7 separate regions of the Homo sapiens genome follow, and regions 1, 2, 3, 4, 5 and 6 are each linked to region 7. The links come from fine-mapping of genetic effects on gene expression. A gene starts in region 7. Each other region holds a variant in brackets. All regions are shown on one strand. Distances are between the middles of the regions. Region 1 holds the start of RSRP1 (arginine and serine rich protein 1). Region 2 has its middle 28 kb from the start of SYF2. Region 3 overlaps TMEM50A (transmembrane protein 50A). Region 4 has its middle 43 kb from the start of SYF2. Region 5 overlaps MACO1 (macoilin 1). Region 6 overlaps LDLRAP1 (low density lipoprotein receptor adaptor protein 1). Region 7 holds the start of TMEM50A (transmembrane protein 50A).

What was found. PIP is the estimated chance that this variant, and not a neighbour inherited with it, causes the effect.
Region 1: its variant is fine-mapped to the expression of TMEM50A in whole blood (INTERVAL, PIP above 0.99).
Region 2: its variant is fine-mapped to the expression of TMEM50A in whole blood (TOPMed, PIP above 0.99).
Region 3: its variant is fine-mapped to the expression of TMEM50A in whole blood (TOPMed, PIP above 0.99).
Region 4: its variant is fine-mapped to the expression of TMEM50A in whole blood (INTERVAL, PIP above 0.99).
Region 5: its variant is fine-mapped to the expression of TMEM50A in monocytes after LPS (Kim-Hellmuth 2017, PIP 0.93).
Region 6: its variant is fine-mapped to the expression of TMEM50A in whole blood (INTERVAL, PIP above 0.99).

What each region holds. Positions count from the first base shown.
Region 1 is chr1:25,244,405-25,248,813 of GRCh38, reverse strand. It overlaps RSRP1 (arginine and serine rich protein 1), which reads left to right and starts at 1,360. Exons shown (of 5, transcript NM_020317.5): 1 at 1,360-1,505; 2 at 1,785-2,370; 3 at 3,513-3,664. The coding sequence starts at 1,851. RefSeq lists enhancers at 1,120-1,844, 1,845-2,569. The variant A/C (reference allele first, on the strand shown) is at 2,321.
Region 2 is chr1:25,202,203-25,206,611 of GRCh38, reverse strand. No RefSeq gene overlaps it. Among named protein-coding and RNA genes, the nearest start is that of SYF2, 28 kb to the left of the region's middle. The variant C/T (reference allele first, on the strand shown) is at 1,852.
Region 3 is chr1:25,358,409-25,362,798 of GRCh38, reverse strand. TMEM50A (transmembrane protein 50A) reads right to left here. Exons shown (of 7, transcript NM_014313.4): 7 at 438-2,139. The coding sequence ends at 2,094. RHCE (Rh blood group CcEe antigens) reads left to right here. Exons shown (of 10, transcript NM_020485.8): 10 at 246-550. The coding sequence ends at 272. Among named protein-coding and RNA genes, the nearest start is that of TMEM50A, 22 kb to the right of the region's middle. The variant G/C (reference allele first, on the strand shown) is at 1,982.
Region 4 is chr1:25,187,012-25,191,420 of GRCh38, reverse strand. No RefSeq gene overlaps it. Among named protein-coding and RNA genes, the nearest start is that of SYF2, 43 kb to the left of the region's middle. The variant C/T (reference allele first, on the strand shown) is at 2,718.
Region 5 is chr1:25,451,832-25,456,240 of GRCh38, reverse strand. MACO1 (macoilin 1) reads right to left here. Exons shown (of 11, transcript NM_018202.6): 4 at 1,859-1,982. Among named protein-coding and RNA genes, the nearest start is that of MACO1, 23 kb to the right of the region's middle. The variant G/TG (reference allele first, on the strand shown) is at 2,581.
Region 6 is chr1:25,551,333-25,555,741 of GRCh38, reverse strand. LDLRAP1 (low density lipoprotein receptor adaptor protein 1) reads right to left here. Exons shown (of 9, transcript NM_015627.3): 2 at 1,678-1,820; 3 at 770-882. Among named protein-coding and RNA genes, the nearest start is that of LDLRAP1, 9.9 kb to the right of the region's middle. The variant C/T (reference allele first, on the strand shown) is at 2,317.
Region 7 is chr1:25,336,312-25,340,720 of GRCh38, reverse strand. TMEM50A (transmembrane protein 50A) reads right to left here and starts at 2,387. Exons shown (of 7, transcript NM_014313.4): 1 at 2,265-2,387; 2 at 142-247. The coding sequence starts at 234. It also overlaps a transcript of RSRP1 not described here. RefSeq lists silencers at 2,438-2,557, 3,549-3,843.

The sequences.
Region 1 (4,409 bases), 92 kb after region 7:
TTTCTGATGGATGGGCATTGTATCTTCACTGTCTTGAGATTTAGAGAAGAAACTGTTTAAGAACTACTTCCATCATGATGCATCCTCAGGAGATGTGGATGAACTGCGGAGATGTGGGGTGAAGATGAACAAGAGATGAGTGAGTTTGTGTCTCCCTCTAAAGAAAGTGGCTTTTGTCAAAATGTACTTGTAAAGAAGTGTATAGGCTGGGCAAAGTGGCTCACGCCTGTAATCCCAAAACTTCAGGAGGCTGAGGCGGAAGAATCGCTTGAGCCCAGGAGTTGGAGACCAGCCTGGGCAACACAGTTAGATCCCGTGGGTAAAAAAGTGCAAAAATTAGCATGGTGGTGCATGCCTGTAGTTCCAGCTCTTCGGGAGCCTGGGCTGCAGTGAGCCGTGATGGCCCCACCACACTCCAGCCTGGGCGAGTGAGACCCTGTCTCAAAAAAAAAAAAAAAAAAAAAGGCAATTAACCCACAATTTTCAAGGCAATTGTTATGCTTTATTACAAGAAGTGTTTGAAATGCATCCCATTTGTAGATCCCTAGAAGTAAAATAGTCACCTTTGTTTACACTCACACCAAACACAGTTTTTGGAAGAGATATCGCAGACTTCATTATTATCCCCAGATTAAAGGTCAGTTTTGAGTCTTTTTATTTTGTCTCGACCTTATTACCTTCCTAGCCAAAACATGGAAGTAAAACATCTTTTCTACGTTAATACTGCATTTCCAGGGGTCTTGGGGTGTTCCGGGGGAGGGTGAGGTCCCCTCTCTGTCATGGCGGGGTGTGGACGCGGTCGCCTTCTCCTGGCGCCGCGGTACCTAGGACAGGAGGAAGAGGCCAGGAAGGGTCCAGGGAGGCTCAGGCCGGGTCTGCGACTTGCCGGTGGGTGGCGGCAACGACCCTGTGGGCACCAGCCCGTCAGACGGCCCCAGCTCCGAGCCCGGCTGCGAGCCCTCTCCAGCCTGCAGCCGCTCCTCTCCCGGCCCTACTCCCCGCCCGGCACTGACGTCCAGCCCCGCCCGTGCAGTGAGGCCAGAGCCTGGTGTAGCCCCACGCGGGGCCGTTCCATCTTCGAAGTTTTCTGGTGACTGGGTCGGTCCCGCAATTATCTCAGATCAGGGGGGAAGCCAAGGGCAACGGGACACCCTGATGTATCAAACACCTCCCCCTGGAGCCCCATCGCGCATGCGCACCCTGGAGGCAAGCGCTCGAGGCACAGGGCGCGGCTTGGGGAGGGAGGAGGCAGGGCGGTGGTTGGGCAAGAGAAGAGCCGCGCCCACCACGGAACATCTCTGCGCATGCGCCGGGGGCCAGCTTCTGGTACTTTTGACGCGTCTGCTAACGTAGTCCCTCAGTGCGCATCCGGACGTAGGAGGTGGAGGTTGTGGAATTCGCCGTTCGAAAGCAGGGACTAAAAGCCCCACTTCGTCTTACGTTCCGAAAGGAAGGCGTCTGTTGAGCCTTTCTCTCAGTCGTGAGGGAGGCGTCGACGGCGTGCGGTAAGTTTTCTGCTGACGGGGTCTCTCAGGACCACCGCAGTGGTCTCTCAGGAGTGAGGGACGGGAAACGTGCCGGGCCCCGCGTTTGGGGAACGCAGCGTTTCGCTTCAAGGCCGCGGCCTCAGGGCGCCGAGCGGGGTTTCTAGGGCTCGGTTCCTGTCGCGGCGGTCGCCGCCCGCGCCGTGGCTCCGCCTCCCGGAGGTTCCCCGACTGTGGCTTCCGGGTGGCCAGGCGCCGGCTTCCGCGACTCGACTTGTTTTTTCTCTCTTGGTTTTTTAGGAAGTCCTGAGTTGAGGCTTGCGGGATCCTTTCCGGAGAAAGCGCAGGCTAAAGCCGCAGGTGAAGATGTCCAACTACGTGAACGACATGTGGCCGGGCTCGCCGCAGGAGAAGGATTCGCCCTCGACCTCGCGGTCGGGCGGGTCCAGCCGGCTGTCGTCGCGGTCTAGGAGCCGCTCTTTTTCCAGAAGCTCTCGGTCCCATTCCCGCGTCTCGAGCCGGTTTTCGTCCAGGAGTCGGAGGAGCAAGTCCAGGTCCCGTTCCCGAAGGCGCCACCAGCGGAAGTACAGGCGCTACTCGCGGTCATACTCGCGGAGCCGGTCGCGATCCCGCAGCCGCCGTTACCGAGAGAGGCGCTACGGGTTCACCAGGAGATACTACCGGTCTCCTTCGCGGTACCGGTCCCGGTCCCGTAGCAGGTCGCGCTCTCGGGGAAGGTCGTACTGCGGAAGGGCGTACGCGATCGCGCGGGGACAGCGCTACTACGGCTTTGGTCGCACAGTGTACCCGGAGGAGCACAGCAGATGGAGGGACAG[A/C]TCCAGGACGAGGTCGCGGAGCAGAACCCCCTTTCGCTTAAGTGAAAAAGGTGGGTGGGTCATTTACCTTTCCATTTGTGGTAATGTATGGTGGCAGTATATGAGTAGGCTAGGGAACCAACGTTGCTGTGTAGTTTCAATATTAGTTCCTTTAGTGCCCGAAATCTTTTTGGAGGAAAGAGGGAGGACATTACCTGTATTTAAGTGGACAGCATTCTCTTTAGGGTTAAAGGTCAACTGGATGTTAAATGGCTCAGGATGTAGGGAACTTTTTTTCCTATTGGCTGACTGTTCTTAGTGGGTGGAGCCTTTTAAATGTTATGATTAAGTTAAAGGTTCTAAGTTAACGTGATTGGGAAGAACAATATCAAAACACGCCTTCTTTTAGTTGACATTATTACTGAATAAAATTGGATTGTCGAGTATCCTAAGTGACCTAGGAGGCCGGGCGCGGCGGCTCACCTCTGTAATCCCAGCACTTGGGGAGGCGGAGGCGGAGGCGGGTGGGTCACTTGAGGCCAGGCGTTCCATACCAGCCTGGCCAACATAGCTCACTATCTAGTAAAAGTACAAAAATTAGCCGGGGGTGGTGGTAGAAATACACTTTAGTAGTGTATCAGTATTGGTTCAGTGGTTGTGATAATTATATAAAGAATCTACAGCAGAAAAACCTGGTTTTCAGAAATACATCTTTGAAGAGAAAGCAAAATAATATCACTATTAGCTAGAGAAAATTAAGTACAACAAAAAGACAAAATAATAGGACGCTCAGGCCTTTAGTCAAGAAAACAAAACTAATTGTTGAGATAATTTAAGAATTTTATTCTTTTCAGCAAGAAATGAGCTGGAGAATAGAATTTTCAGTGAATAAAGTTACACAGTTGTCCCTCTGTTCACTCGGGGGATTGGTGCCAGGATGCATATGGAACCCTCGCGCACACTTGGGGTTTACAGTCTCTCAAACACTGTGGTACTTTCTATCTGCATTTAGTAAGGGGGAGAAAAAACAAGTATAAAGTGGACCAGCGCAGCTACTAGTGTTCAAGGGCAACCTTAGTTTACCTATTATAAAACAAGTGACTTAATATATTTAATACCACAAAATAACATATTTATTGTGTAATTCTGAGTTCTCTTGGGAAATAACTACCAGATTAATGAGTATTTTAAAATCTCTCTCTTTTTTTTTTAGATCGAATGGAGCTGTTAGAAATAGCAAAAACCAATGCAGCGAAAGCTCTAGGAACAACCAACATTGACTTGCCAGCTAGTCTCAGAACTGTTCCTTCAGCCAAAGAAACAAGCCGTGGAATAGGTGTATCAAGTAATGGTGCAAAGCCTGAAGTAAGTATTCTAGGTTTGTCGGAACAAAACTTTCAGAAAGCCAACTGTCAAATCTGATTAGCCACTTATATCTTAGACTATACTTTTTGGGAAGTCTAGAGATGTATATAATGTGCTAAATTCAAAGTAGCAAATCTGAAGATAGGCAATGTCAAACCCATGAAAATGGGAGATTAATGAGCTTTATTTGGCCGTGCATGGTGCCTCATGCCTGTAATGAGGCAGATGGCTTGAGTCCAGGAGTTCAAGACTAGCCTGGGCAATGTGGCAAAACCGCGTGTTTACAAAAAATACAAAAATTAGCCAGGCATGGTGGTGCATGCCTGTAGTCCCAGCTGTTTGGGAGGCTGAGGCAGGAGGATCTTTGAGCCTAGGATGCTAAGGTTGCAGTGAGCCAAGATGGCACCATTGCACTCTAGCCTGGGCAGCAGAGCGAGACCCTGTCTCAAAAAATACATTTATTTTTTTCATTTTCAGTTAACAGTGTACTCTTATAACACCGTTATTAGCTGGTACTTTGGTGATTTCTATTACTAGTTTTTCTAAGCTATTTACAGAGTGTTTGTAGCTTTCATTTGCAGCATTATGTTCCCACAAATTCTGTACTCAGCATATACAGTATAGTTTATCTGCTCTATTTCTGTCTTATAGAAATCATGAATGTGGTCTGCAGACATTGATGAAGAAAATCTGTTGGTAATTGATACATGGGCTAAAGCATCAGAGGTTTAATTTGAAGTTTATG
Region 2 (4,409 bases), 130 kb after region 7:
TAGTAAGGTGCCATAAGTGTTAGCTCTGATCCTCTGGGGTAGCTAAGGTCTTGGTACTTCTGCTGTCCTCGATAGCTATAACATCCTAACCAGCAAGGAAGCAGGGAGGAATGGCAGCTGGACAAGCAGGACCTGTGTCTGCCTCAGTGTGTCCTGCCAGGGAGGGCCCCCATCTTGCTCTGTGTGTCTTTCTCATTGCTCACAAACAGCTCTGCAGCGAATGTACCACAATTGCTTTTTCATTAGTAGCCGCAGCATTCACATCCGGTAGCTCTTGACCACTGAGGTTTGCAGTTAATGGTGGCCTCGCACACTGAAACATGAAGCTGAACAGTTTACTCCAGCCTTGTTAGGTTGGAATCAGCCACTTGAATAAAGAACACCACTTCATTACCTGCTCTTGGGTCAAGCTGAAAGGAGAAAGAGCATCTCACCAGATGTCCCATGTGCCGGGGCTTCAGTGTTCTCAGGGATTCCAAGTGTGTTCATTCCAGAGAATTCTCAATCAAAGCGCGACCCCAGGCAGACACATTTTCACACCAGCATCCCCACAGCATGTGTGGAAGAAAGGGGGGTTGGATTTGTGTAGATCTAAGTCAAACTAATTAGCTGTCAGCTGCATCACATCTGGAGATCAAATATAAATTTTTGGCCTCAAAAACCATTCCGGTCCCTGTCATTTCCGTTCTCCTGGTACCAGGCCATCTTTTGTAGCATGGCTCTAATATGTTTCTCTATGCTGCCAAAACCCTGCAGCTTGCTAAGCATGGACTCCCAAGTCATCTGCCATTGGTGACTGTAACACCCTTTTACTTTGTGAGAGGTAGAGTTAGAGACCCAGGTCTTTTGCTGGGACAGATAGGTAGGAGTGGGTAATTTCACTTCCGGCATGTCGGAATGCAGTTTTCATGGGGAAAACAGAAGTGCTTTTGTGGAAATTTTGAATGCACGGTGGAAACCAGTGACAAATTTGGGTTAATGTAAATATGATGTGAGAAATGAAAACCAGAGGTGAGCAGGAGCTCTCAGCTTTAACAAGAGGCTTTCATTGTTTTCTACCATGTGTAGCAAATATTTAACAGTTGCCTATTAATGGGGTCCTTCACCACTGATACAGTTCTGTGTGTCCAAAGATCACAGACTCTGGGGTCTGACACGAGCTGATTTTGACCCATCTCCTGCTGAATTTCATCAGCTGCCTCAGCTTGGATCGGGTGTAGATTTTGCTTCTCAGGAGAGGTCTGTGCGTCTGGCAATGGGAGAGTGGCCAGAGAACAGAGCCAGCAGCAGTTTTATTCTATTTAGATTATTTAAAGTGTTTTTCCCCTGGTGGAAAATAATATGTTTCTGGTTTAACTTGATTTTAAATCACTGCCATGTTATTGTAAATAATGTGACACCTCATTTCTTGAGAGAAGCTTGGAATGTGGTTATGGAATCCCAAGTATATGAATGACAAATTGGCTTTGTGAATTTGATTCTTCTCCATGGCAAAAGATAACGCAATTTTTTGTATATTCTAAAATCAAAGCAATATTTGGTATGGGGTACTTCTAGGAACTTCCCACTAGGGGGCAGTGTACTTTCAGGTTTTTTTTTAACATGCAGCCAGTGGTTCCCATAGTGTCGTCCCTGGAACAGCAGCACCCAGGAATTTGTTAAAAATGTGAATTCTCTGGCCTCCACCCAGACCTACTGAATCAGAAGCTCTGGCAGTGGGGCCCAGCAATCTGCTTTTTATTTTTATTTTTATTTTTTTGAGACAAGGTCTCACTCTGCCGCCCAGGCAGGAGTGCAGTGGCGCGATCTCGGCTCACTTTCAACATCTGCCTCCCTGGTTCGAGTGATTCT[C/T]CTGCCTCAGCCTCCCGAGTAGCTGGGATTACAGGTGTGCACCACCACGCCCGGTTAATTTTTTATTTTTTATTTATTATTTTTTTTTTTTTTACGGAGTCTTGCTCTGTCGCCCAGGCTGGAGTGCAGTGGCACGATCTTGGCTCACTGCAACCTCCACCTCCCAGGTTCAAGTGATTCTCCTGTCTCAGCCAGGTTCACGCCACCACACCCAGATAATTTTTGTATTTTTAGTAGAGACGGGGTTTCACCATGTTGGTCAGGATGGTTTCGATCTTTTGACCTCGTGATCTGCCTGCCTCGGCCTCCCAAAGTGCTGGGATTACAGGCGTGAGCCACCAAGCCCGGCCTGTAAATAACATTTTATTGGAATACAGCCTCACTTATTTGCATATTGTCTGTGGCTACTTTCAGCTTACAGTGGCAGAGTTGACAGATGGCCTAAAATATTTACTATCTGGCTCTTTACAGAAAAAGGGTTAGATAGATGCAGAGGTTATTTAGCAAGGCCTTGAGGAATTGGGTCATTAGCTCCAGGAGAGTTGAGGGACCCAAGGTGGGAGACCTTGAGTACTGAAGTGGCCAAGAATGTTTTTGGGGGGTGGGGAGAGAGTAGGAGCAGCATGGAGGAGATAAGAGGCTTGGGTGAGGCGTGGAGAGGGGACATCGAGAGGCTTTCAATTGCTATGCTAATGCCCTCAAATACAAATACCAACCAGAAAACCTACCAATTAGGATCACCTTGACTCATCTGTAAATAACAACTATTTATCCATCTGTAATCAATGAAGATGATTCCTGTTGGGATTTTAATTTACATCTGTTTTAAATTTTCATGCACTTTCTTTCAAAGGACTTGTGAATGTGCATATTAAAGTGCAGAGAAAAAGAAGACATTTGCCAATAAAACAGAATGGACCACATTACACAAAACTCTTTGCATTTATTTCCATCTTTAGTACCAGCTACTGCACTGGAATTTCTTTCTTTTTTTTTTCTTTTTCTTTCTTTCCTTTCTTTTTTTTTTTTTTAAGACAGAGTCTCACTCTGTTGCCCAGGCTGGAGTGCAGTGATGTGATCTCGGCTCACTGCAACCTCTGCCTCCTGGCTTCAAGTGATTCTCCTGCCTCAGTCTCCTCAGTAGCTAGGACTACAGGCATGCATCACCATTTCTGTATTTTTAGTAGAGACAGGGTTTTGCCTTGTTAGTAAGGCTGGTCTCGAACTTCTGACATCAGATGATCTGCGTGCCTTAGCCTCCCAAAGTGCTGGGATTACAGGTGTGAGCTACTGCGCCCGGTCTGGAATTTCTTAAGCAATATTTTCCAGGTGTTTTGAGCCTATTTTGTGCTGGGTAATTTTCATATATTGCATTTATTGAATTTCCACAATACTCTGACAAATACACATCAATTCTTCTATCTTTCAGAAGAAGGCAACAGCTCAGAGAAGTCACGTAATTCTCAGCTGGGCGCGGTGGCTCACACCTGTAATCCCAGCACTTTGGGAGGCTGAGGCAGGTGGATTGCCTGAGGTCGGGAGTTCAAGACCAGCTTGACCAACATGGAGGAAACCCATCTCTATTAAGAATACAAAATTAGCTGGGTGTGGTGGCTCATGTCTGTAATCCCAGCTACTTGGGAGGCTGAGGCAGGAGAATCACTTGAACCTGGGAGGCGGAGGTTGCAGTGAGCCGAGATCATGCCATTACACTCCAGCCTGGGCAGTAAGAGCAAAATTCTGTCAAAAAAAAAAAAAAAGTCAGGTAACTCTCTAAGGCAGGCCAGCTGGACCCTGAATTTGAACCCCATGAACCAATCTTGGCATTAGTCAGAGCTGAGTCCACGGCTCCGAGCTTCCTCCGTCTTGAATGTCTTCCTAATTGTGCTGTGCTTGGTGTTCTTTTTATAGGCTGGTAGCTAGGCCTTGCAGTCTTACTTACATTATTATATTATTATCCTTCCTAGCAGAACCCTAATTAATTAATCATATAGAAATGGTTCCTTATTTAGTCCGTTAAGTTAAATTGAGGCCTTTAGTGAGAGGAGCCAGAAGCCTTGGCCCAAGTGTAGCAGGTCCCAGTCCGCGGGACTAAACATCTGAGAGACACGGGACAGAGTGACCAAGGGCGGGAGGCTGCTCTTCAGAACAGATGTACCTGCAGCTTGCCATCGTCGGGCCATGGGAAGGAAACGAGGCAAAAAACAAATGCATGGTCAGGACAATTTGTTAGATCCAGGGCTAGTTTTTAACTCTCAGTGTTGGCCTGTAAACACATTACCCTGCCTAGGAGTGGGCTCATGATCCCACCCAGAGACTGACTTTGACTGCTGGAAAAAGGTCCCTTTTGTAAGCAGAGTCACACTAGGGCATCTGGAAATAAATGTGCTGGGGCATGTTGGTGTTTTATTCCCCAGCGTTCTATGTTTGTTGTCTTGGGAAGTGTTGACAGGTGCACAAGGCAGAAGTAATAACAAAAGTGTTTGTGGGTGCTCTTGAGAAAAGGTGTGCTAGGCTGTTTTTTTTTTTTTTTTTTTTGAGACAGACTCTTGATCTGT
Region 3 (4,390 bases), 22 kb before region 7:
ATATGGCAGTAGTGAGTCCTCTGTCTTTGGAGGCATTCAAATAAAAGCCAGATGGCCATTTATCAACAATCCATGTAAAACGTTAGATGAAATAAAACCTATATATCCAAGATCTCTTCCAATTCAGATTTTATGAAAGAATTTCTAAGGTCTTTGTAATGAGACATTTAGGCTGTTTCAAGAGATCAAGCCAAAATCAGTATGTGGGTTCATCTGCAATAAAAATGTTTGTTTTGCTTTTACAGTTTCCTCATTTGGCTGTTGGATTTTAAGCAAAAGCATCCAAGAAAAACAAGGCCTGTTCAAAAACAAGACAACTTCCTCTCACTGTTGCCTGCATTTGTACGTGAGAAACGCTCATGACAGCAAAGTCTCCTTATGTATAATGAAACAAGGTCAGAGACAGATTTGATATTAAAAAATTAAAGACTAAAAACTTAGTTTAAGAGTCAATTTAATAAGTTTAAAATAAATGTTTAGTTTCATTAGGATGATGCTATCAATATTTTCTTGGTTACAGACACATTATTAAAGTTTTGGGTTAATTTTATTGACAATTCTTAAGATTCTTTCTCATGCTTAATAAAGCATGCTACTCAGTTAACTCTTGTCTACATCAGCAAAGCAGATAATACAAAACAGGAAAATTACAAATCACTGATACTTAGTCCTTGTGGGAATCATGCTTTTCTCCCAGCAGTTTTACAAGGTGGCTGGCATTCCCTGAGCATATTCTGAATTGCACTGTGGGGAAAGAGGTTGTGCTCAGTTGTAGGGTGGGGGGATGCACTGCCTGAGGATTAAAAAACTAGTTCTGTGACCGTGAGGAAGTCGTTTAAATTTCCATGGTCTGTTCCCTCCTATGTGAAAAGAGAAGGTGGGCTTCAACCTCTAAGATCTTCTCCAGTTTTCACATTTTATGGACTTTTGTAGAAAAAACATCAGGAGTTCATGTGGGATGACAGCAAGTCATTTCTTTGAGGAGAGTCTTGATCACCAGGCAATATTCACAGTGTAGAGACTGTCAGATGACCATGGCTAGCATGGAAATGAGACCCACACATTTAAATCACCCAGCAAATATTCCGAAGGCTAATTGTAGCACATTTTATGAAAGACATTTCAAACTGTGGTCCTGAAGAGTGTATCCCATCTTGCAGAGGTGGGGAGCCTGGGGGGACAAGAGTTCTGAAGAGGAAGAGACAACAAGAGTTCCCAGTAGCTAATGTTTGTCATTCTAGTTGACCGTGCTGGTCTATTAGGCTAGTGGTTCAGTACACAGATGAAATGCAACATGGAACCCAGTTTATTATCAGAACAACTACAAAGAAATTGTCCCCTGTCTAAGACTGGAGTGTCAAGTCTCTGCCCTTTTTTCCTTTCCTTCAATGGTGGATGTGGAGTGACTGTGCATCCCACCAGAACCACGTGTCATGGCTGAGTCACATCTTCCTGCCCTTGGAATGAGAGGCACAGCGGAAGACCTTCCCATGGAAGGGACACAGGGAGCCTGGTGGCTGGACCATGGTGCTTCTCTCTTCCAACACGTCCACTCACCCCTTGGGAGACCCTCAAAAGCCAGTTACATTACATGTTCACAGAATTTTTGGTAAAAGTAAATACCAATTATAGTGAGGAAGAATTTTGACCACGGAATATTTTAAAAACTAAAAAATGTTTATATTTCATTTAACATTTGACACAGAAGAGACCACATTTGAATAAACACATTAAATCTTCAGAGCACTTTCATTGTGGTTTTGGACCTCAGATATGACAAATACTTACATTGACAAATCCATAATTTCTTTTGTAATTTCTTTTTATTTTTACAAATTATACCATGATAAAATTTGACAAAAATTATTCATGTGAAAGTTTCCTCTAACATTTTATAAGTTAATCAAGTGCATACCACAATAGATTTTTGGTTGTTGTTTAGGTGTTCTCGTGATTTTAGTATTACACAACTTTAAGCTGA[G/C]ACTACACTCAGAAATAAGTTTAGAAAATGGCATTACAAAAGGTTGGGAGTGAGCAGTAAAAAAACAAACAAACCCATGCAGGGCTGTTGTGCTGTGGGAAATCAGATGTGTTCACTGCCATAAGTCTTCAGTGCGGCCAAACTTAAAAACCAGCCCTCTGTGAATAAAACAAGAAATATCACATGACTCCCTGAATTTGAGAAAAGAGTATGTGAGATTTCGAGAATGGTGTGAAACAAACAACGAAGAATAATTGATGAGTTGTAGAAGAAATTTTGGTACGAAATGTATCAAAACAGAAACTGATCATTCTAAGGTAGTGAATTCTTCCATTATGTTCAACTGTGCTATTAACCACCATATTCCCAACAACCTTAACTTTCAAGTACTGAATACACATGTGACTTTTAAAAAGTTACCAGTGTTTACTATGTAACCATTATATGTCTGATTTTTTTTTTTTTTTTTGAGACAGAGTCTTGCTCTGTCGCCCAGGCTGGAGTGCAGTGGCGTGATCTCGGCTCACTGCAAGCTCTGCCTCCCGGGTTCATGCCATTCTCCTGCCTCTGCCTCCTGAGTAGCTGGGACTACAGGCACCCGCCACCATACCCGGCTAATTTTTTGTATTTTTAGTAGAGATGGGGTTTCACCATGGTAGCCAAGATGGTCTCGATCTCCTGACCTCGTGATCCGCCTACCTCGGCCTCCCAAAGTGCTGGGATTACAGGCGTGAGCCACTGTGCCCAGCCCTATACGTCTGATTTTATCAAATTCATTCAACAAACTGTTTTGGTGCCAGGGCTATAAATAAGATACAAAGCCACTGCCCTCAAATTGCTCTCATTCTTGCTAACGTGATGTGGTAAGTGTGGGGGTGGTTGGGGAAGGAGACTTATATAACAAGTATTAAGGGGGCACAGAAACACAGAATTCGGTCACCCTGAATAAGTTAGAAAAGGATTTACAGAGGTGGTAATATGTGAGATGGGCTTTTGTGGAAAAACAGGGGTTTGAATGGGAGATTGGTAGGAACAAGACCTAGCGGGATGATGAAGGCAGGTGTTTCGGGGACAGGAAACAGTACATCAAAGGGGAAAGAGGCATAAAAAAGCATGGGGCTTCTGGAAAAGCCCAGGAGACTAGTATGACAGGAATTTGCCCTCACAGAGCTTACAGTCCAGGGCAAGCTTGTCCAACCCACAAAGCATGGGCCACATGTGGCCCAGGACAGCTTTGAATGAGGCCCAACACAAATTCGTAAACTTTCTTAAAACATTATGAGATTTATTTTGTGATTTTTTTTTTTTTTAAAGCTCATCAGCTATTGTTGGTGTATTCTATGAGTGCCTCAAGACAATTCTTCCAATATGGCCCAGGGAAGCCAAAAAATTGGACACCCCTGGTCTAGGGTTTCGGTGAGGGAACGTCTACAGTTGTCCTTAAGGCTTCAATTTAAAAGAGGCAAGAGCGCAACTGTATGCATAAAATGATACCTGAGGTGTTAACAGAACAAGGAAGAATCCACCATGGCCAGATTATGGTTGGCCATGAGGAGGCAGGGAATGGACACAGCCAGGCTTTGGAAAGCCAATTGCCAAGGGTGGCAAATTACCCACAGGTGCCTTAGATGAGCCAGAGTGCAGACGCCTGCCTGCATGCTCTATGGGGCTGCCTGCCTGCATGCTCTATGGGGATGCCTGCCTGCATGCTCTATGGGGCAGCTGGTGCGCAGTCCCAGGCACCAAATGAAATGGGGGCTATGAGCCAGACACAGTGGCTCATGCCTGTAATCCCAGCACTTTGGGAGGCCAAGGCGGGCAGATCGCTTGAGCCCAGGAGTTTGAGACCAGCCTGGGCAACATGGCAAAACCCCGTCTCTACAAAAAATACAAAAATTAGTCAGGCATGGTGGCATGCGCCTGTAATCCCAGATCTCTGCTCTTCTAGTTAATATAGGATCTACTGCTGTAACAAAGAAAAACTGAAGTTGGTTATTAGAGGCCTCTACTGTCCAAATAGCTTAAAAGAGATGCTGTAACTTCAGAATACTCGTCACAAGATATGAACTCTAATCGGAAGAGTTTCCTGGGCAAGAGCCAGGGACCAGTCCCTCCTACACTGTCAAAATTACCTGGGGTTCAATCTGCTTACAGGATACAAGGTATAACCCAAAGAGGCTGTGCATCTTGTCACATCTAAGTTTACATTTTTATTTCCAAACTGATTTTACAAAATGGCAAAAATGCCTGGTGATGGAATAGAATAGGTGTGAATACCAACTGGTGGCTCTTTCTGAAGGGCAACTATTACTATTTCAAGAGGGCTTCAGTAAACATGGGATTTTTGTTTCTTTTTTGGAGGTGGGTGGGAAGGGAAGGGGAAGGAAAGGTCCTGTAATATACATCAGA
Region 4 (4,409 bases), 150 kb after region 7:
CACACATGCATTAGGGACTCACTGGGCTACCCTCGGAAGGCCCTGTCTGCCCTGGATCCTGTGAGTCTGTATCCAGACACACAGAGAAACTTCCCGTGGCTGAGGGCATTTCTGAAGCATGTGTTCAGCTGGGAGCCCCTGACTTAATCCTCAGAGGTTGCTGGTCTGTCGCTCCCTGAGGGCCCACGGGGCAGCCAACTAGTTCCTTGTTATGCACAGCCTTAGTACCACGTACAGCACCATCTCCATCTGTGTCTGACAGGTGGCTTCTGTCACCTCCCTTGCCACCCAGCTGGGATCGCCACATCCAACCACGGGACTTGGGACACGTGGGAACTTCGGATTTGGCCACAGCGTCTAAGTTGGTGTGCTCAACTTCATTCAATCTTCAGGCATTTCATGAGCCAGCAGCATTAAAAATCAAATTATAGGCCAGGTGCGGTGGCTCACACCTGTCATCCCAGCACTTTGGGAGGCTGAAGTGGGCAGATGGCTTGAGTCCAGGAGTTTGGGACCAGCTTGGGCAACATGGCAAAACCCTGTGTCTACAAAAAAATACAAAAATTAGCCAGTCGTGGTGGCACAGGCCTGGGGTCCCAGCTACTCAGGAGGCTGAGGTGGGAGGATCGCTTGAACCCAGGAGGTTGAGGATGCAGTGAGCTGTGACAGCAACATTGTGCTCCAGCCTGGGTGACAGAGTGAGACCCTGTCTAAAACAAAACAAAACAAAACAAAATCAAATTATATGAGCTTACAATTGGATTATATTTAAAAAGACAATAAGTATTCAAAACTCCCCACGGCCTAATGATTTTTCTACATTTTGCTATTATTATACTCTTGAGGTTATTTTACCTGGTGTTCAGTGACTTCACTTAAGTAGCTTGAAATTGGCTGTGGTGGGAGTATTTACACCACAGAAACTGGCAAACACTACACATCACCCAATCCACCCCATGAGCTTGTTGTTAGACATTTACTAGCACACCACAGCTTCTGCCTGCACTATTAAGAATCTCGTTGACAATGGGTATGTACTATTTCAGAGAAATTATGAGACCAACAGCCTCATGTGCTCAGGAGTGGGTCTTCCTAAACAACTGATTTCATTTCTAGCTCCTGGACTTGGAATCATGTTAATATCCCTCCTCTTCTTTGCCTTCACTGCTAGAAAACTTAGAAACAAATTTGAGTCCCACCTCTAGCAGGTAGCATGGCTTATATTCTGCATCCTGACACCATTTCTAGTACCTTATTTTCCTCCTTGTGTTTCTTCTTTTACTTGTCATCCCCTCCCCTTTTTAAATTTTTTTCGATTCTTTGGCTGCGACAACGGAAGAGATGATTTAGTGTATATGTGTTACACTCAGCCACCACTGAGAACAGAACTAGTCCAGGCTGTCCCAGGTCCAGGGCAGAGGACAAAAGGGACTGCTTTGGTGACCAAGGGGGATCTCTTAGAGGTGCTCTTGGTGATCAGATGGCGATGGATGTTCTGGATCCATTGAAAGACAAGTTGTAGACAGTAGCATGCAGTCCAACGGTTGTACCAGTGTCCTCAGCCTCTGGCACTCCCTCTGCCTCCATGGGTACACAGGCTTCCACCTCTGCCCCATCTTTCTTCTTTTGCGTTTTAGCCTGTGTTTGGCTCTCATGGCAAGTAGGTTTCTAAGAAGGTGGCACTAAGGCTAAGAGAACATTTAAAACATGTTATTTATTTATTTATGGCCGGGCGCGGTGGCTCATGCCTGTGATTCCAGCACTTTGGGAGGCCACGGTGGGCAGATCATGAGGTCAGGAGTTTGAGACCAGCCTGGCCAACATGGTGAAACCCCGTCTCTACTAATAGTACAAAAATTAGCCGGGCGTGGTGGCGCATGCCTGTAATCTCAGCTACTCGGGAGGCTGAGGCAGGAGAATCACTTGAATCTGGGAGGCGGAGGTTGTGGTGAGCCGAGATTGTGCCATTGCACTCCAGCCTGGGCAACGAGAGCAAAACTCCGTCTCAAAACAAACAAACAAACAAAAACCCCACGCCATATTATTTATTTATTTATTTATTTATTTATTTATTTTTGAGATGGAGTCTCACTCTGTCGCCCAGGCTGGAGTGCAGTGGTGCAGTCTCTGCTTCCTGCAACCTCTGCCTCCCTGGTAAGTGATTTTCCTTCCTCAGCCTCCTGAGTAGCTGGGATTACAGGCGCATGCCACCATGTCTGGCTAATTTTTGTATTTTTAGTAGAGGTGGGGTTTCGCCATGTTGGTCAGGCTGGTCTTGAACTACTGACCTCAAGCAATCCGCCCACCTCGGCCTCCCAAAGTGCTGAGGTTACAGGTGTGAGCCACCATGCCCAGCCTATTATTAACATTATTTTAAGAGATGGGGTCTTGGGATGTTGCCTATGCTGTTCTCAAACTCCTGGGCTCAAGCAATCCTCCCACCTTAGTCTCCCAAGTAGCTGGGACTACAGGCACATGCTGCCATGCTTGGCTTCCCTTTTTATATTAAAAAAGTAAAAAAAATTGCTTTTATATAGGAAGATACAAAAAAATTACAACAACTTTTATTACAGCTTTGTTGAGGTATAATTGACAGATAATAAACTGCACATATTTAAAGTGCTCCATTTGATAAATTTTAACATATGTATGTACCTGTTAAACTATCACCACAATCAAGATAGTGAACGGCTCCATCACCCCTAAAGGTTTCCTCA[C/T]GTGCTTAGTAATCCATTCCTCCTGTCCCCAGGTGATCTTGATTTGCTTTCTACTAAGATACATTAGTTTGCATCTTCTGGAATTTTGTATGAATAGAGTCTATAGTATGTACTCTTTGTTTTTTTTCTTTTTCAGTCTGATTTCTTTTTTGTTTTTTGAGATGGAGTCTCGCTCTGTCGCCCAGGCTGGAGTGCAGTGGAGCTATCTTGGCTCACTGCAAGCTCCGCCTCCCGGGTTCACGCCATTCTCCTGCCTCAGCCTCCCGAGTAGCTGGGACTACAGGTGCACGTCGCCATGCCCGACTAATATTTTGTATTTTTAGTGGTGACGAGGTTTCAACATGTTGCCCGGGCTGGTGTCAAACTCCTGAGCTCAGGCGATCCGCCTGCCTTGGCCTCCCAAAGTGCTAGGATTACCAGTGTGGCCACTGCACCCAGCTCTTCATTTTTATTATTATTTTTTTTGAGAGATGGGGTCTCACTATGTTGCCCAGGCTGGTCTCAAACTCCTGGGCTCAAGTGATCCTCCTGCCACAGCCTCCCAAAGTGCTGGGACTACAAGTGTGAACCACTGCGCCCGGCCCTTATTTTTATTTTTATTTTTTGAGAGATGGGGTCTCACTATGTTGCCCAGGCTGCTCTTGAACTCCTAGGCTCAAGCAATCCCCCACCTCAGCCTCCCAAAATGCTGGGATTACTGGTGCGAGCCACCACATCTGACCTAATTTATTTCTTTTTATAGCTGAATAGCATTCCAGCATAAGGGTATATCCCAATTTGCTTATCCATTCACCTTTTGATGGATAGTTCAGCTGTTTTTAGTTTTTGGCTGTTATGAATAAAACTGTAAATATTTGGGTACAAGTCTTCATGTGCACATATGCTTTCATTTTTCTTGGGTTGGTATCTAGGAGTGGGCTGCCTGGGTTGCATGTTAGATGTGTGTTTAACTTTTAAGAAACTGCCAATTTCAGTTTATTTTTTTATCATACAGTATGACCTTGGACAAAAGCCACCGAGCATGACCTTTAACCTCTCTGGGCCTCAACTTTGCTTAGAACTCAATGATACAGCTTCTGTGGGATTCTACCTTCACAGAACTGTTGCAGGACAAATAAGCCTTGTCTTTGAGAAGACGCTTAGGGCTCTCAGGAAGGACAGAGACCTCCAGAGAGCCAGGAGGTTCTTATTGCCGCCGTCATCGCACCCTCACACCCTTTTAATTAGATCGCTCATCTCCCCTGTGGACCTGAGGGTGCTGGGGGGGGAGCGGGGCGGGGGCTACTGTAGATTCCCTCCAGATTTTGTGCTGCCCAACCCTCCCTGGCCTCTGAATGGTGCTGATGCTGTCATAGGTCATAAGGCCTTTGAAGACAGATGTGAACACCTGCCAGTTGGCGCAGCCCTTGCTAAGTGGATGCTTTCCTCCTGTGGTGTGTGAAATGTCCGAATCAGGTTTCTATACCCCCAAGTCAGCTGGTGACCCCTGTCCCTGACCCAAAAGCAACAGGCAATGTGAAATGGCAAAAACCACCCAGCACCCCCCTTCAACACAGCAAAACCCTCCAACATCTAAACAACTTGCTTAGATGTGAGTTTTTTTTTTTTTTTTTTTTTTTTTTTGAGATGGAGTCTTGCTCTGTCACCCAGGCTAGAATGCAGTGGCACGATCTTGGCTCACTGCAACCTCTG
Region 5 (4,409 bases), 120 kb before region 7:
TGTTGCCCAGGCTGGAGTGCAGTGGTGTGATCTCGGCTCACTGCAACCTCCGCCTCTCGGGTTCAAGTGATTCTCCTGCCTCAGCCTCCTGAGTAGCTGGGACTACAGGCCTGCATCACCATGCCCAGCTAATTTTTGTAATTTTAGTAGAGACAGGGTTTCACCATGTTGGCCAGGATGGTCTCGATCTCTCGACCTCGTGATCCACTCGCCTTGGCCTCCCAAAGTGCTGGGATTACAGGTGTGAGCCACCACGCCTGGCCTGTATGCTTTTAAAAACTAAAAGGGTAGAGACTTTACAGGTAGCCAAAAGTAAACATAAGTGTTAAAAAAAAAAATCACAAGGACATCATTTGATTTTCAATACTAGAAGGCAGGGTCAAATTCAGGTGACTAATTTAATCTTCTTGCTGCCTGAGGGGTACTGTCACCAGCTATTCCTTGAAGATTGGTTCACAAACACTCTGTCATATATAAATTCTGTCATACATAAATTCAAGAATCATTTAAATAAGTATCCGATATGATCAGTGCCAAGATTTGGTTTGTATCACCAAATTAAACCAGCTGTACTTAGAACTCTAATCTCTGGGATAGAAAGTTAAATATTTTCATTGAACTTACCAGCCTGCCTAACATCATTTCAAAGCCTCTGCAAACACTGTCAAGCCCATATAAGTTTCACTAACATGAAAATGTATCAATTTATAATTAGTCTAAATGTGGTCTCACTACAAACTTACGGTGACATGTTTTACTGACCAAGTTCATTTAATTTACTTGTTTGTAAAAAGACTAAAAATACTGGAAACAGTATTTTTTTAGTTGATTACTGTTTATTTTGGTTTCTGCCATAAATATTAGTAAAAATTGGTGTGTTTAGGAGAAACATACATTAGGTGGTAAGTTCCACAATAGATCTAAATAAGAACCAAGCTCATTTTTCAAAAATGTTTCATGGTTAAGATTAAATGAATAATATCTTAATATTCATTAACATAAAGAGAAATAATATTCATTCAAAAATTATTAATAATATTCTCTTACTTTTATAAATAGGCTAAGGAAATTCTAAATTATTTTAAGTTTCATGAATTAGCCATATATTTCATCAAGACCTTCTGGAATCATTACCTGATTATAATAAACATAGCTAACATTCATCAGACACCTATGTGCTTGGCATTAAGTTGAATACATGTATCACTTCAGTTCCTTTTTCCCATGACCCAGTGAGGCAGGTAAGAAAACCATGGCTTAGAGGCAGTGACAAGGCAACACAAGCTGTCAGAGGACAGAGCTGGGATTCACTCATCTGCCTGAAAAGGGGGGGCTCATGGTCTTTCCAACCATGCTGTACTGCTTTCTGGATCCATGTAAAATTTCTAAGAATAAATTTACAGTTGAACTTAACATTCTACAGTGAAATGAATTATAGACAAAGAATATATATAATACTGGCTGGGTGCACTGGCTCACACCTATAATCCCAGCACTTTGGGAGGCTGAGGCAGGTGGATCACTTGAGGTCAGGAGTTCGAGACCAGTCTGGCCAATATGATGAAACCCTGTCTCTACTAAAAATACAAAAATTAGCCAGGTGTGGTGGCACGCGCCTGTAATCCCAGCTACTTGGGAGGCTGAGGCAGGAAAATCGCTTGAAGCCGGGAGGCAGAGGTTGCATAACCAAGATCGTGCCACTGCATTCCAGCCTGGGTGACAGAGCAAGACTCCGTCTAAAAAAAAAAAAAATATATATATATATATATACACACACACACACACACACACACACACACACATATATATACATACACACATATACACACACACACACATACATTTATGTAATACTTACCAGTGAGCAGCAAATGGACGACAAAGGTCTACATGAAAGTTTTTGAGATCTTTAAATCTAATGGCTGCTTCAATATAAACAAAGAGGATCCAGAGAGACACTGTAGGCAAACACACTCCCCTTTCTGTGAGAAAGCAGCAGAGAGGCAAGCATTAATAAACGATATAGTAACTAACAGATGGATTGTTTGGGAGACTAATTTGACGACAGTAACTTTCATTAAGACCTTCACCTAAACTAAATTAAAAGGCAAACTGATCCAAACTGAAAGCTTTTATATGACAAATGATTCCACAGAATCGCTGACAAAAATAAAAGACAAACATCCTGGCAAAAAATATTTACAATGTATGTAAAACAAAGGATTCATAGCCCTGACATACAAAGAGCTCCTACAAATCAATAAAAAGCTAACTAAAGAAAATAATTTACGAGTCACAAAAGAATACAGATGGCTAAAAAACATAGAAAAAGATGTTAACTACTGATTAGAGAAATACAAATTAAACCAATCAGATTCCATTTTCTTAACTATTAGATAAAATTTTTAAAGACAGATAATAGCATAGGGAGGGTATGGGCAAAGGTTCATTTTCATACTCGGCAATAATATAAATTGGGACAACCATTTTAGATAGCAATTTGGCAGTATATTTAAATTTAAATACTTGTACCTTTCTTTTACCCAGAAATTCCACTTCTTTTTTTTTTTTTTTTTTTTT[G/TG]AGGGAGTCTCACTCTGTCGCCCAGGCTGGAGTGCAGTGGCGTGATCTCGGCTCACTGCAAGCTCCGCCTCTCAGGTTCAAGCAATTCTCCTGCCTCAACCTCTCAAATAGCTGGGACTATAGGCGCCCACCACCACGACCGGCTAATTTTTTGTATTTTTAGTAGAGACAGGGTTTCACCGTGTTAGCCAGGATGGTCTCCATCTGCTGACCTCGTGATCCGCCCACCTCAGCCTCCCAAAGTGCTGGGATTACAGGCGTGAGCCACCGTGCCCGGCCCAGAAATTCCACTTCTAAGAATCTACCCCATAGAAACATAAAAGAGTCTTGAGATAAATACATAAAAATATTCACTGGGCTGGGCGCAGTGGCTCACACCTGTAATCCCAGCACTTTGGGAGGCCGAGGAGGGCGGATCACCTGAGGTCGGGAGTCAAGACCAGCCTGGCCAACATGGCAAAACCCTGTTTCTACTAAAAATACAAACATTAGCCGGGCGTGGTGGCAGGCGCCTGTAATCTCAGCTACTTGGGAGGCTAAGGCAGGAGAATCGCTTGAACCCGGGAGGCAGAGGTTGCGGTGAGCCGAGATTGCATCATTGCACTTCAGCCTGGGCAACAAGAGCGAAACTCCATCTCAAAAAAAAAAAAAAAAAATTCACTGTAGGGCCAGGCGTGGTGGCTCATGCTTGTAATCCCAGCACTTTGGGAGGCCAAGGTGGGTGGATCACGAGGTCAGGAGTTCAAGACCAGCCTGACTAACATGGTGAAACCCCATCTCTACTAAAAACACAAAAATTAGCTGGGCATGGTGGTGCACACCTGTAATTCCAGTTACTCGGGAGGCTGAGGCAAGGGAATTGCTTGAACCCAGGAGGCGGAGGTTGCAGTGAGCCGAGATTGCGCCACTGCACTCAAGCCTGGGCAACAGAGCGAGACTCTGCCTCAAAAAAAAAAAAAAAACAATTCACCGTAATATTATTTGCAATAGCAAAAATTTAGAATTTAAATGTTCATCAACAGGAAACTGTTTATGATAAATCTATATAATGAAATATGTTGAAGGTTCCTAAAGAATGAGGAAGATCTGCATTGTCATGGAATGACATAAAAAAAATAATCCTTAAGTAAGAACAAGTTGTAGGACAAAGAAATGTTTCTGACACTTAAGTACTGTTCAAAAAAATTTTTTCTGAAGCACAAACTCATATTCCCTTTGTAATTAAAAACAATTTTCAAGGGAGGAAAAAGCAACTTGCAACAAAATAAGATGCAAATAAAGGCAAATGTCCACTGGCTTTTCGAATCAAAATCTGCAGGCTAGGTCCATCTATATCAGGACATGACTAATAACGGGATATTTATGAATGTGGACTACATGGGCACGAGGGGGAAAAAATCAGTGACCTGAAGGCTTTTTGCTAAGGATCTTTGGGATGAAACTAAAGAAAAATCATAGTATCTTCAAACTAGGAAGATCATTTTGTCTAACTTCCTCATTTTGTTGAAGAGTAAACCCCAGAGTTTAAATAAACTGGGCCCAAGTTCACAGAGACAGTACTAAATCTGCTTCTAAGGAGAACCTCCCTTAGTCCTAGTACCTGAGTGAAGTTGTCACTGGATGCTCTGTGAAGCCAGCTAATGGTCTCAACCACTCTTATGAATTTAACATATCAAAAATAGGTACTTTTTTTCCTTTTCTTTTTTTTTTCTTTTTTCTTTTTTTTTTGGAGACAGAGTCTCGCTCTGTCGCCCAGGCTGGAGTGCAGTGGAGTGCTGGAGTGCAGTGAAGTACAGGTGCAATCTCAGCTCACTGCAACCTCTGCCTCC
Region 6 (4,409 bases), 220 kb before region 7:
AGACCCCCACAACACACATCTACTGACCCTACTACTGGCCTGTGCACCAACGGGCTGAGCCATCTGCTTAGAGACAAAGCAAGAGGGTGGAGGGATGCCAGGCAGACGGGAGCCTGCTGGACAGGGCTCTGGCCCGGATATCCTAGTTCCAGTTTAGCTACTACCTCACTGTGCAGCCTTAGGCAATTCCCTCTCTGGGCCTCAGCTTCTCCATCTGTAAAATGGACCTGAGCTGTCCCTTCCAGTTCTGAAAAACTACAACTGACCAGCCGAGAGAGGTGGGGATAGTCTGAGGCTCTAAGGGCTGACCAGAGGACCCACTAGAGAGACCATCTATACTCTGACTTCAGACCTTGGCTGAGGCCTCCCTGGAATGTCTGGCCAGATACCCAGAGCTGAGCTGCTGCATTCACAGCAGAAGGAAAAGGCAGTGACTCTGCAGTTCTCTGCTCCAAGCCCGACTCAGCGGCATGCTGGTGGGGAGTAGGGGGGAAGGGCACGGGTGGGCTCAGCTGTCTTCTGCAACTGGTGATGATGACAGCAGCAGCTGCCACTTAACCAAATGCTCATCATGAGCCAGGTGCCGTGCACTCCACGTTTCCTAACAGCGCTGTGCAGCAGGATCTGTTCCCACCCCCATTTTACAGATGAGGAAACTGAGGCTCCAATGTCACCCAGGTAGGAAGTGGTAGAGCCTGGATTCAGATGGGATACTCCACCCACTGCCCCAAGTGGCAGAGTGGATGGGCCAACCCCATGCTGAGCGTACCTGTATATGGACACGTTCTCAATGAGCTGGTTGGTGAGGTTGTCTGTCAGGATAATTCCCCGTGGCGACACCTTCAGAGTCACCTTCTGCAGCTTCTTCCCACTGGCCTTAGCCTTGGGAGCAGACAGGAGTCAGAGGAGTCTGCCAGCCTCACTTGAGACCCACCCTCATGGCTTACACTTCACTGTTCCTAAGCCCCAGGCACGGGGCCCATCTCAGCTCAGGTGACTGGCAGCAGTGTGGGCAAGACCACTCAGCCAGCACCTTCTTGCAATAGAAACAGGAGCAGCATCTGCTGAGCACCAGCTATCTGTCAGGCACCGTGGACCTGGAGTCATCCTCCCTCTCCCCAGAGATGGACTCAGAGAGGCTAAGGGACTTACCCAAGGACACACAGCTAGAAGGGCCTGCAGACTCGGCACTGAATGAGCTAGCACAACCCAGCAGGATGACTCCTGAGTACTCTGCTCCATCCATTGAGCTGAGGGGTCTGAGGCCACCAAGGGAAGTGGATTTAAAAGGCCCACCCTTGCTCAAAGTTAGGGAGGGGGCAATCTGCTCTCTGATGGGCTATGCTGTCTCTCAGGCCATTGGGCAGGTAGTCAAGGGAAAGCAAACTCCCCACCCTTCCTGGTGCTGATAAGTCACCAATGCATTGGTAGGGAGCCTGAGCTGGGGGTGGGGAGGCTGGAAGAGGCCATAATGGCTGGAGGGAAGCCACTAACCGTGACCTTGCAAGTCCAATGGTTCCCCTCTGCCAAGGCCCAAAAGCTGGATGGAAGGAGAATGAAGGGCAGGGCCAGGCTCAGACACACCCAACTGGAGTAACAAGCTGGGACGAGGGCACCCTGGGAAGAAGCTGGTCCTTGGTCCCTGGTTCCCCCACCCTTCCTGACTGGGGTGCTCACTGTAGCCACGATCCTCTTGATGGCGGCGGCCGACAGCTCCTCACCCTTGGGCTGCTCCACTAGCGTCATGCCCAGGTACTTGAGGCTGAACAGCATCCCCTCCAGCAGCGTCTCCCGCGTGTCTGTCCAGTTCTCAGGCAGCTCTGGGGTAGCACAGGGTAGGCCCTCAGACCCTGCGGCTCAGGGCCCACCACCAGCAACAGCTCTCACCAGCCTTCTTTCCTAGGAAACCCCAGCAAGGGGGATGGGGGTCTCCCCCACCACTACTGCCACTCTTTTTTTTTTTTTTTTTTTGAGACTGAGTTTCACTCTGTCACTCAGGCTGGAGTGCAGTGGTGCGAGCTCAGCTTACTGCAACCTCTGCACCCCAGGTTCAAGCGATTCTCCTGCCTCTGCCTCCCGAGTAGCTGGTCTCGAACTCCTGACCCCAAGTGATCTGCCCGCCTCAGCCTCCCAAAGTGCTGGGATTACAGGCATGAGCCACCGTGCTGGGTCTGCTGTCACTTTTAATAAAGGGCTAAAGCTTTCCGGCACATACCAAGGCTCCATGTAAGCAGCTTTACATAAAATGTTCTCATTAATCCTCCTAAGAACCTATGAGGTCAACGCTTTAATCAAACCCATTGACAGACAAAGACA[C/T]GGAGGCCATGGAGGCTCAATCACATAACCAAGTCCAGAGAGCCAGGAAGTGCAAGAGCCAAGTTTCGAGCCCTATTTTCAAGCCCTGAGCCCTCTTTACTTCAATGCTACCACTTGCTGAGGGCAAATCATACCATTTCTTACTGAATCCTTAGTGCAATCCTGTGAGACAATGATTCTACAGATTAGGAGACTGAGGCTCAGGGAGGCAAAGTCATGAGATGAAGGCCACATACAATGAGTCGGACTTCAACCCTGAGCGGTTCCCATGGCCCCAGCCTGCACTGCTTTCCTCCCTGTGCGCATCCGTAGAGACCAACAGGGGCATGTGGGAGGCTGGGCAGGAGACAGTAGCCCAGGGAGAGCAGGGAAGGGTAAGGGTGGGTGGGGAGAGGAGAAGGCGATTTCCCAAATCGGAGAAGGTTCGAGACCCACTCTGCTTCCCACCCCCTGGATGGTCCTAGGGAAGTCCCCTCTCCTCTTTGGGACTAACATTCCCCCCTCTCTGGGCTGTGACAATGGTGCAGAACAGAGTCCACAAGGAGAGTTCTCTAAAAGCACCAACCACACAAATGTCAGGAAATAAGGGGATGAGCCTGCCTCACTGGGTGGGCAAATGGACCAGGAGGGACACGTGGAAAGAGCGCCCCACCACGTAGGTGAGGGCCCCGTGGAGGCAAATGGGCATGAGGGCAAAAGCAGGCTGCACTGACAGTTTCTGACCATCCCCGGCTCCTCGGAAGGAGGACATGAAGAAAGATGAATGAACACCTCACACTTCCACCTGCCAGAGCCCCTTCCTGTCCCCTACCTCTCTGTCCCATTTTACAGAGAGGAAACCCTCACAGATGCTGTGCTTGTAGGAGGTGTTTGTTATGACTGCACCATTTTACAGATGAGAAAGAAAACTGCTCTTCAGCCTCACACACAATCTTGTTGAGGACAGAGCAGGATCCAGCCAGGAATCAGCTTCCAGGGGCCACGAGAGGTAGCCAGGGCCAGCTTCCCTAGACCATCCCCCAGGGAGGGGCTGGGAGATGTCCTGGGCCCTCCCTACCTCCTCCTGAGGCCTTCCTCACTGGCTCTGATTGAAAAGCCACAGGAAGAAAGTTTGGGTATTGCTAGTTCCAGGGCAGCTGAGGCTCTGGCAGGGATGTGGGCCCCTACTACAAGGCTCAGCTTGGTTCTGGAGTTCCGGCTCTGTCAAGAGCAGAAGTCTGGGTCCAGGTGGCATCACCAGGTCCCCTACCCAGTCTGGATCCCTGCTGCCCCTCTCAGCTCCTATCCTAGAGCCCTGGGCCTCCAGGGGCTCTGGTCCCCCTCTCCACAGCCAGAAGGAGCCTTGTACACCCACATTTCTCTGGATTTGCCTTGAGCAAGCCACTGTCCCTCTCTGAGGCCATTTCTTCATCTGAAAGAGGGTGCGGGTGTCAGGGCTGGGGAGGGTTATACAGGAACTTACAGATGTACCCAGTTCCCCTCATGTCTTGAGATCAGGTGAGCAGGGACTTACTGACTGTCATCTAGAACCTGGCATGCAGGTAGCGCTCAATACTCGCTCAAGGAAGAAATGACGAGGACAACCCCATCCCATCCCCAGCCCTGGCCCCAGGCCCAGTGACCCTCCAGCCCTAGATCTCATCCCTGGGCCTCCACCCCAACATGAGGCCAGGTCTCCACTGAGATGACCCCAAAGCCCAACATGACCTTATCCTCTGTCCCATCAACCACAAGCCTATTCCATTTGATCCTCCAAAAGAATGTGAAAGTCCCTGAGATGTCCCCAGTCCTGGGTTGAGTGATGGGGCCCTGGAGCAACTCAGACACAGACCCTGCTCTCAAGTTCAGAATAACAGCACCATCATCAGGGAAAAACAGCGCTTTCATATAACAAAGATGCAACAATAATAAAGCCATAGCTATTACCATCACCTCTAACACTCACAGCCACCTTGCAAGCAGGCATTCTCTCATTCCCATTTTACAGAGAGGAAACTGAGACTCAAAGGACTGACTCTAAAGCCCAAGCTCCTGACCATGAGACCATACTACTTTATCATGCAGCAAACTACCTTAATTCTAGCAAAAGATCA
Region 7 (4,409 bases):
CCACAAACAACAAAATATCAACATGGTCAAAGTGGTCAAAGATAAAATAAATAGTACATATTTTAAAACATCCTGCAGAATTCAAAACCCATAAACACAAACGCACCAAAAAATAAGGCCCAAATAATCAATGACACTTACTAGTACACCAGCAGCAATGGAAGCAATAGTATTGCGCTTTTCCCCCCAGTCAATGCATTCTGAGCATCTCAAGCCCTCTAGAAATCCAGACATTTTTTTCAGGTCACTTAAAAACAAACAAACAAACAATTAAATAAGTACTTCCATTTACTTGCTTCAAGCCCGAAAAATAATTAATAGCTCAGGAATAATTAGATAAAAGTGAAATTACAAATGCTTTATTTTGGTTCCACATACTTCTTCAGAATATTTGATTTAGTTTTTGATGAATTTCCACATTATAACTTTGGAAAGTAATATCTGGATTCATTTAGTATCTTTTTTAATGTAAAAAATGGTTTGGGGGCCGGGCGTGGTGGTTCATGCCCGTAATCCTACCAATTTGGGAGGCTGAGGTGGGTGGGTCACCTGAGGTCAGGAGTTTGAGACCAGCCTGGCCAACATGGCAAACCCCATCTCTACTAAAAATACAAAAATTAGCCGGGGGTGGTGGCGCATGTCTGTAATCGCAGCTACTTGGGAGGCTGAGGCAGGAGAATCGCTTGAACCTGGGAGTCGAAAGTTGCAGTGAGCCGAGATCGTGCCACTGCACTCCAGCCTGGGCGACAGAGCAAGACTCTGTCTCAAAAATAATAATAAATAAATAGAAATAAATGGTTTGGATATATTTAAGCAGTATTAACAAAGGTGGGTCTCCAAATATTGAAAAAATTTTAACTACTGGTTGACCTCCTCCTGAAAATCTGTCACATCCTATTATTTCTAAGTAGGTATTAAATTAGTTTAGGTGGTACTTTTAATACCAAGTATATGATTACTAATCCACAGGAGCTCTTTTGTATCATTTTGATTCCAAACTTATTAAATGAATTTGATATTTACAGTCCAGGAGCACTAACATTAGTAGAGAGACAAGTGATAAACTTTGGCTCTGAGTGGAATTACAGATTCAAATGAAAAATATTTCTCTAATTTACATATTTTATCACAGAACGTGTGTTTCTTCACACCTAAATCAAGAAATTAAACACTGCACTGCAGTTCTTACCTCTACCCACATCATTTCCTTTCACTTCATTCATTATTTTTCTTTCTGCAAGCCTGCCTTTTGGTGTCATTTCTATATAAAGAACATCCACTTTAATATCCCTATCTCTGATCCTAACGGGTGTTTCCAGCCAAAAGCAAGCACAGAATCGTGGTTAATAGTAATTCAGATTACAAAAATCCAACTGCTATTTAAATATAGCCGACCCAAGCTGTCTTTACAAATTATATAAAACATTCCTGTAAGCCGAGCAGTAGAGACCTGAGATACAGCCATGTTATCTCTATTTCAGAGTATGAAAAAGCCTGAAATACATATAACTTGCGAATAACAACACCCAAACTCCTACAGCGAACTTGACTTCCTTAAGATACTTTGTAGCCAGCAATTATGGTTGTCCAAAAATATGACACCCTACAATAGAGCAACGTCTCCCATTTTTAACTTCTCTTTTAAAAATTAAATATTAAAATATATGATTACAGCCAATGCTAAGATGCCTTTGGGACAAGTTCAATTTAGGAAATTCACTCATTTGATTCTTCCCCGGGAAGAACTGCAATTCAATAAGTGTTATTTTCGGTTCATCCCAATGGCCCCACCCCGAATCCATTTTTCTTTGCACGACGACTGGTACGCTCAAGCCAGACCCCGCCCTCCAAACTCTGGGACTTTTAGGTCTCGAGGGACGCCGCTGGAAGATGGGGGAGCCACCTTTAGCCGGGGCACCCCTCGCTGAGGGAGCTGGCCGGGTCACGCTCCTTTCTCGGGGCTTCGGCTTGTCCAGCTGTGAAGTGGGGGATCGGGGGATTTTCCAGGGATCCTGGGGTGTCCCGGGGGAGGGCGCGGTCCCCTCTCCGTCTTGGCGGGGTCTGGACGCCGTCGCCTTCTCCTGGCGCCGCCGGACCCAGGAGAGGAGAGGTCCGCGGCGGCTCAGCCCGGGTCTGCGGCTTCCGGGAGGGTGGCGGCAACGAGCCTGTGCTGTGGGCACCAGCCCGTCAGACGGCCCCGGCTCCGAGGCCTCTCCAGCCTGCGGCCGCTACTCTCTTACCCCCACTCCCCGCCCGACACTTACGTCCAGCCCCGTCGTGCAGTGGTTCCGGAGCCCGGTGTCGCGCCGCGCCGGCCCGCCTCACTCCCCCGATTTTAGCCAAGAAAACAAAACGGCCACAGCCTCCAGACACCCGGATGCAGCAGTACCATCCACCCGGCTCAGTCGCGCATGCGGACACGGGGCGGAGGGCGGGGCGCCGGGTCCGGAGGGAGCCACGCCCACCACAACAACGCGTCTGCGCATGCCCGGGCGCTGGGTTCAGGGGCTTTCCGCCGCTCTGGGTTCACAGCTGGACGTCGGGAGTGCTAGTTTGGAGTACGCCATTTGAGAGTAGGCGTGAGAAGTTGCTCTGTGTGCTGAGCGTTCTAAAGGAAGGCGTCCGTTGGCCTTCGTACCCGTCTTGAGTGAGGTGACGAGTGTTTTCTAGTACTGGGGTCGGCCGCGCAGCCCTCTCAGGGGTGGGTGGCAGGAAGAGTGCCGGGTCCCGCGTGGTGCAAAAGGTGGGTTCAGGTTTGCGGCCACACAGCGCTACTCAGGACTTTTTAGTCTTGTTTATTTTCTCCGTGCCTGTTCCCGCCCCCCGCAGCTCCACCTCTGGGAGAGGGGCGGGTTCAGCTCCAGGAGGCGGGGACTTCCCGGCTTGGCGTGGCTGGGGTGTCCCGTGGACCCCAGTCTCGGCGCGGTGACCCACTTATGGGACTTGGCCTTTCTTTGTTGTTTGTTTAAGGCAGGGTTTCTCAGCCTGGGCACTACTGAGGTTTTGGGCCGGCTAATTCTGTCTGGGTTGGGGAGGGTGCTGTCCCGTGCTTCGCAGGTTGTGTAGCTGCATCCCCCGCCTCTACCCAGTGGATGCAAGTAGCAGCCCCAGTGAACCAAAAATGCCCCCAGACTTTGCCAAATATCCCCTCCCGGGGAAGATCGCCTCGCTTGAGAACCACTGTTGGAGGAGAGCCTGGGTTTTCGGGAGGTAACCGTTTACAAAGGGGAGAACGGTAAGAAGCCGGAAGCAACGATGACTTAGCTACGTGAAAGACTTGCGGCCGGGCTCGCCCCTCTTCTAGAAGCCGTCAGTTTGGGTCTCGCGTCTGGAATCACCGTCAAGGAGTCAGATCCAGCCCCGGAGAGGGAGCAGGGTCGAGGTCTCCTTGCAGAAGGCGCCACCGCAGGAAGCACAGGCGCAACGTGCGGTCTCCCTAGCGGAGGCGCTCGCGATCCTGCAGCCGCCGGTCCGGGAGGTGCTCGGTAGCCCTCCTTGGTGCCTGTCCGGTAGCTGGTCACTCTCGGGGGAAGGTCGTGTGCAGAAGGGCACATGCGATCACACAGAGACGGCGTTGCTGCGGCTTTGACCCGATGGTGCACCCGAAAGAACACAGAGGGTGAAGGGAGAGATCCAGGAAGTGGTCGCGGAGCAGAACCCCCCTTCACTTCAGTTAAAAAGGTGGGTCAATTGTCGTTAAGAGATACGCACAGGTTCATCTGATTGACATGTACGGCGGCAGTATATGAGTGGGATGGGAACCAAGGTGACTGTTGTTTCCTTTGATGGATGAAACTTTCATCCCTTTGGGTTTTTTTGTTTGTTTTTGGCGGTGCATTAGCCGATTAGTAGATAAAACTGCATGACAATCTATAGCCTGTTTTTAAATGGACACGTTCTTACCACTCAGGAGGTTTATCGTGATTGTTTAATGTCTCAGGGTGGAGGAATCTAGTGCAGGCAGTTCTTAATGAAACCTTTTAAATTCCCGTTAGTGACTTAACATTAGTTTACCAGCTCTGAGCAGCTTTAAACAAACATCCTCTTTTAATAGCTAATGAGTGCGGGAGAAAAGATACTAACTCCTTTCTCTTTGCGTTTTTTGCCCCTACCCTTTTTTCTCTTTTCTGGCCTTAACATGATTGTCAAATATTTATAAATATGAGTGAGCATCTTTATATTACTCTTACTAATAAGATACATGCTTAATTTGTCATTCTTTACCTTTTTGGGACTTAATGAATGTTTGTCTTTTGTAGATAAAATGGAGCTGCTAGAAATAGCAAAAGCCAGCCACCCATATTAACCCCTCCATTTTCCCTATAATTAATGGCTTTCATTATTGTGGTATATTTGTTACAATTACTGGACTAATATGATACATTATTATTAACTGACATCCACATTTT